Linked DNA regions of Homo sapiens: region 2 is linked to region 1. Evidence: fine-mapped expression QTL. A gene starts in region 1. The other region holds a variant in brackets. All regions are shown on one strand. Distances are between the middles of the regions.

Region 1 (2,921 bases):
TGTGTTTCTCGAATGCATCATGTAGATAACTAACTGCTTGACAACAGACTGGAGAAGTAGCAATGAGAAATTTAAAACCAAAGCTACTGCCCAATTGAATCAACACTGGAAAAAATTTCAAATGGAAAAACAATTTTTTTAAAAAAATCTATTCTAATTGACCCAAACTTCTTTTGAAATGTCGTAACATTTGCAGTTCTTTTTCTCACATTAGTTGTTTTGGGAGATGGAGAGAGAAGCATCTATTTAATCAATGCGTTCTAGACCTAACAATTGTGATGTCAATCAAACATTTTGTCCACCATTTCCATCATGAGTAATCTGAACTGTGAGGTTTTGCTGACATAATTAGTGTTACACTACAATGGCACTACTACATTACTGTTACTATATGGGGACGGTACTTTCATTTTAAGTAGGAAAGTGTTAATAATTTGGCTTAATGTTTCTTAACTAAAATTAGTTTTAAAAGAGGACTGAGTTGGCTTATACACATGTATGCGGTCCAGAGACCTACCTGTTAAAATGTCAATGCCATTACAATTTCACTTTTATGCCAGATATCATTCTTGAACTTCAGGCTCATTAACTCTCATACTATCCCCCAAAACCTTTCAACAATTTTGAGAGTGTATTTTATGTTAATATATAAACTAGTTCATAATTTTGTTCCAGACTAGAAATCAGTATTTAATAAATGGAAAAAATAAGACACTGAAAATCTTTTATTGAATAATGTAAATTCTCACAGAGGCCTCTGATCATACTTTTCAACTTGTGCCTATTTATTGAATAACCAACATCCTTACAGTTAATATTAAAATCTTTAAGTTGTGTGGGGTTTTTTGGAGGGGAGGGATGGGCAATTACCAGCAAACTCCGCCTCCCCCAAACCTCACCTAACCCGAAGCTCCCCGCCTCAGGCTCCCGGGGAGCCAAGGGGTGGGCTGAGGAACGCAGCCTACTTTTACCCACCTCCCTACCTAGTGCTGGGAAGTGACGGAAACGGAGACACCCGGCTCCTGGGGCTGGGCTCGGAGGACCCATCCTGCTTTCCCTCTAGCAGCCTTTCCGGAGCTCACCACCTTTCCTCCCCTCACACCGCCAAAGCCCTGCCTAGCCCTTCACCGCCGCCTGCACCCGCGCCCTCCTCCAGCCGACAGCCAATCACAGTCTTCCACAGCTCCGGGTTTACAGAAGTAACGCTCCTTGGGCCCTCTGGTCCCGCCCCCTCCAGAACTGCTTCCCGCCCTTCGGGCTCCTTGTCCAATCATGAGCGCCCGAGTGCTCTTTGATGCCCGTCCCCTCTACCCGCCCTGCCGAAGACCCGCCTTCTTCTCCTTAAGCCTGACGGAATCACCTGACTCGGAGGCGCTCCCTCAGAAGGAAGGCAAGAAGGGGCGTGTGGGTGAAGGGGAGGGGCGCCAGAAGGAAGGTGGGGATGCCGGGAGCGGGGCGAGCGGGCGGGGGTTGTCAGTCCGATCTCGCGAGAGAGGACGGAAGCCTGTGGGAGCCCGTGGCCTTTAAAGTGCCGTTCAGCCTTTTCCTCCAGGGGTGCTTTGTAAACACGGCTGTGCTCAGGGCTCGCGGGTGACCGAAAGGATCATGAACTAGTGACCTGGAAAGGTGAGTAACGATGGGCAGAGGTCAGCAGGGCTGGAGACTGTAGGGATACGGAGAAAGAAGGCGCTAACATGGCGACGTCGCTCAGCACAGTCCCCACCCCCCGTTTCCCATCACCTCGGGTGCTCCTGACGTGCTCCTTAGCCCTTGGGGCGATTGTGGCTGTGCTGCCACCTCGGCGGCCCGCGCGGTGTGGGCTTTGGGAACCTGACTGGCTGGGCCGGACCGTTAGGTAACCAGCGTTCGTTGTTCCGGCCCCTCCCTCTCGCGCGCTTTCCTAAGGCAGAGGAAAAAGGAATAACGGCTCCCTCTTAGACCCCTCCCTCCGAATTATCTTCACCCTACTTGGGTCAGTTCAGAGGTCCTCGGGGCGCGCGTCGAGTCAGCCGTGTGCGCAGGGAGACCTCTCCCACCCACAGTCCTTGGGTTGGGCGGGGAGAGGGCCCACTCTGGTCTCCCCACCCAGTATTCAAGCGATTGAGGACCGTGTATTGGTGATGGTGGCGGGGAGGAGGATCGGGAGGCGCGGCTGAAAATAGAATCAGGGTCCCTGGCTGCGGTGCAGCTTGAAGGAAAGAATGGTGTGGAGAACCTAGGAGCTGGAAGTCTCGGCCTTTTCCGTCCTTTCCGCCACCCTCACAATCCCGCTACCCCCAGCTTTTTCCCGGTGGGGCGGGGCTTAGGTGTGGGTGCAGACTGATTCTGGTATTTTCCCTTATTTTTTTTTTTTTAAATCTCTGGGTGGACAGCAGAGCGTATGTAAAGAAATAATTTGCTTTTCATCAATGCCCTAGGGACCAGGGCCGAAAGGGAGTGTGTGTACGTGTTTTCTATGTTCGCTCGTTTAACCGAACCTAGGAGGAAAAAGAGAGGAGGAGCTGGGAACTATTTTTGTGCCCCTAGGTAGTATAAAATTGGCTTTCTTTAATGGAGAGTCTTAAAACTGGTGAGGCCAAGAGCAAAACTACTGTGAATATCATGGAGTAAAAGAGATTACTCCTGATGGACCTTAGGCATCAGAAATTTTAGTGAAAGAAATGTTTCTCTTAAAATTCAACACCTATTTTAAATAGTGATGTAAAGCATTTCTTTACATGTACCTTCAGGTTTTCTAATGCTTTCCTGGCTATTATTTAACTGGTACTAAGGGATTGACTAATCCCTAAATTATAATGTGAAAGTTTAAATTTCTTAGAGGTTTTAAATTATGGAGACGGTCACAATGCATGCATTTAAGATATACATTTAAAATCAGAACAAAAACTGACTTTCTTTGAGCACACTTTTTGTCCTATTTG
Region 2 (2,921 bases), 35 kb before region 1:
TGCAAGACTTAAGATGGAAGCCAGGATCTCATGGTGATCAATGAGCAGGGACCAGAAATGGAACAGAAACTGGGACTGTACCAAGAACCCTCAGGAGCAAGAACTGTGAGCCTTCCCTCAAGAGCTCCACCAGAAACACTGCTCAGCCTCCTCTTGTCCCTGCTTCTCTTCACATATCTTCTAGCTAAACCGTATGTAACTAACCTGCACAATGTGCACATGTACCCTAAAACTTAAAGTATAATAAAAAGAAAAAGAAAAAAAAAAGACTGAATTCCTCTTCATCTTTTCTTTTTCTAGTAGCTTAAGCTTAGTTATTGTCTCACCTTCTGCAAGGCTTAGTTTCCTCATAATCTGGCTGTGCTCTTGGCCTCTATTCTACATTATACCCCCACTATACATTATTTCATATCAGTTTCTACTATGAGTCCCCTCATATTCTGTATCCCGAATCAGATTCTCATAGGTAAGCATATAATTGGTCCAACTTGTTCCTCTTTGAACAGTTTTTTAAGCTAAATCACCCCATGAGCTGCTCTCCCATCATACTTTGGCTCCCTCTGGTCTAAGCAGCCATATTAAAGGTGGATTTATATGGTTTAAAATATGGCCACCTTCAACTGCCTCTTTAGCAGCAGTGGTGGATATGAAAGACTGTGATAGCCCCATCCAGTACAATCTTGTTTGCTGTATCTTCTCTCCTTATGCTCTGGAATAATAACCCCTCTCTAGGCAAAGCCACAGCAACTACATCTGGGTTCAGTGGCATCTTAGACATTTGTATATATCAGGAGGATCTCTACTATCAAATAGAGCTAAAGACCAAATGGCTGGCCTGGAGATTACATCAGCAGCAGCACTGGAGATCGCCAACACATGTCCCTACCAAAGAGCATGTTTCAGGTGAGACCACAATGCAAAACTATTTTAAAACACTTAGCTTGATTTTACAGCACATTTTTTACCCCTATTGGTTAATCATTATGTTCCTAATTTTGGCATAGCGTAAATCCAAAAAAAATCCTCTGGACAAACGTATCATTTTAAGTCAGCAAATTATTTTTAGTTCTTGGTCATTAAATCCTAACATATATCTAGCACGTTTGGCCTGTAGCAATTGTATTAATTATTGATGTTTTAAACTGCAGAAAATAGTTTATCATGTGGGCAACAAACTAAGTAAAATATCCCCTAAACTTGGAGATATAGGGCACTATTTCTTGAGATATCAGATCGGGCTGTCCGAGTCCTGTAGAGCAGCTGGCTCAATCCACCTCTGCAGGGCTCGAAGCTTCTAGGCAGAACAGGCAGAAAAGCTGCATTGTGGGTGCCCCCAAGTGGGTACAATTTGATGTGCACGCTGAGGATTTTCTCGCCAGCTCCTCTAGCATTCGGTCATGTCTGTGAAGTGATTTTAAAGATGGAGAAAAGCTAAAACGC[G/A]TGTATGTTTTACAATATACATCTCTCATAATATCAACTGAAGCAATATTTAATGTTTCAGTCTACCACAGATCATTTATTTTCTAGCAAATGTCTTTCAGAAATGTTTTCAAGTTATGCTGCCATTAAAATATGGAGTAGAAAAAGAATGGAGTTTAGTGTCAGACAAAACTTGACTTTGAACACTGGCTCAGCACCTTACTAGCTGTGTGGCCTTGGGAAATTCATTTTACTTTCCTAATCTATAGTTGTCTCATTTCTAAAATAAATTCAGGAGTATTGGAAAGGAAATTTACCTCGTAGGGTTATTTACTGGATAAGGCAATAACGTAATATGATCAGTGTGCAGCACATTGTAAGTGCTCAATAAATATAATTTATTATTGTTTGTAAAAAATATTTATTGAGATATACTGATATATTAAAATTCTAGGAGGTCCTCAATACCTTTTCAATAAATCCCTTTCCTACTTAAATCAGCCACAGGCAATTTCTATTATTTACAACTAATAACTGGGAAATATATATGATCATAGCCAGGAAAAAGTATGCAGTTGACCTGTATTCTTCAAAAATGTCAATGTGGCTGGGCCCACATTAGAGGGGAAAAATTCTATAAAGAACCTTACTGGAACAATTGATGAAATTGGACTATGAACTGCAGACTAGGTAAAAGTTTTATATCAATGTTAAATTTCCTGAATTTGATAACTATACTGTGGCTATGTAAGAGAACCTTCTTGTTTTGAGAAAATATGCACAGAAATATTAAGGGGCATAATGCAGGCAACCTACTTTCCAATGGCTTAGAAAAGTAATTAAAATATCTATAAAATGTCTTTGTGCAAATGTGTATAGATGATAGACACATAGATGTTTATGTATACAGTTAATACCATACGTGTGTGTGTGCATGCATGCACACAGTCAGAGAGAGTATTAAAAATTATGGAAAATGGCAAAATTTATTGAATCTGCATAAAAAATAAATAGGAATTCTCAGCATACTTGCAACTTTTCATGGTTTAAAATTTTAAGTTTAAAAACCTACGTTTAAAATGTACATAAAGAAATGTAAAAGGTAGTGAAGTAGCCCCTGAAAAAAATTAGCTAACTATCCAGAACTTTGAGAAAACACACAAAATTTTTGCAAATTCTTTAGCAAATAATATCTGTTAAATGTTAAATGAATGTCTGCTCTCTAAATAACATTGAAATATATCAACTAATTCTTTTTGAAAATTGAGAATTAAAACATAAATGGTTTTCATGAGCAAGAAAAATTATGAACTTCAAGAGCTCAAAGGAACCATAGAGATTACCTAGTCCAGGTTTCTTTCAAAGACAGAAAATCATCCAAATTCCCTTAGGGACACGTCATCCACTCTTACTCTATGAGATAATCACCCTACACTAATTACTTGATGGTTTAAAATTATATATGGCTCATTATTCTGAAAACTAGTAAATAAAAGGAAAAA

The links. PIP is the estimated chance that this variant, and not a neighbour inherited with it, causes the effect. A credible set is the group of variants that fine-mapping cannot tell apart.
Region 2: its variant is the best candidate, but not a certain one, in a credible set for the expression of ATF2 in whole blood (INTERVAL, PIP 0.83).

Annotation. Positions count from the first base shown.
Region 1 is chr2:175,166,755-175,169,675 of GRCh38, reverse strand. It overlaps ATF2 (activating transcription factor 2), which reads left to right and starts at 1,473. Exons shown (of 14, transcript NM_001880.4): 1 at 1,473-1,626. MIR933 (microRNA 933) reads left to right here and starts at 1,967; the gene lies at 1,967-2,043. RefSeq lists a silencer at 1,455-1,524.
Region 2 is chr2:175,202,234-175,205,154 of GRCh38, reverse strand. No RefSeq gene overlaps it. Among named protein-coding and RNA genes, the nearest start is that of ATP5MC3, 22 kb to the right of the region's middle. RefSeq lists a silencer at 1,248-1,387. The variant G/A (reference allele first, on the strand shown) is at 1,441.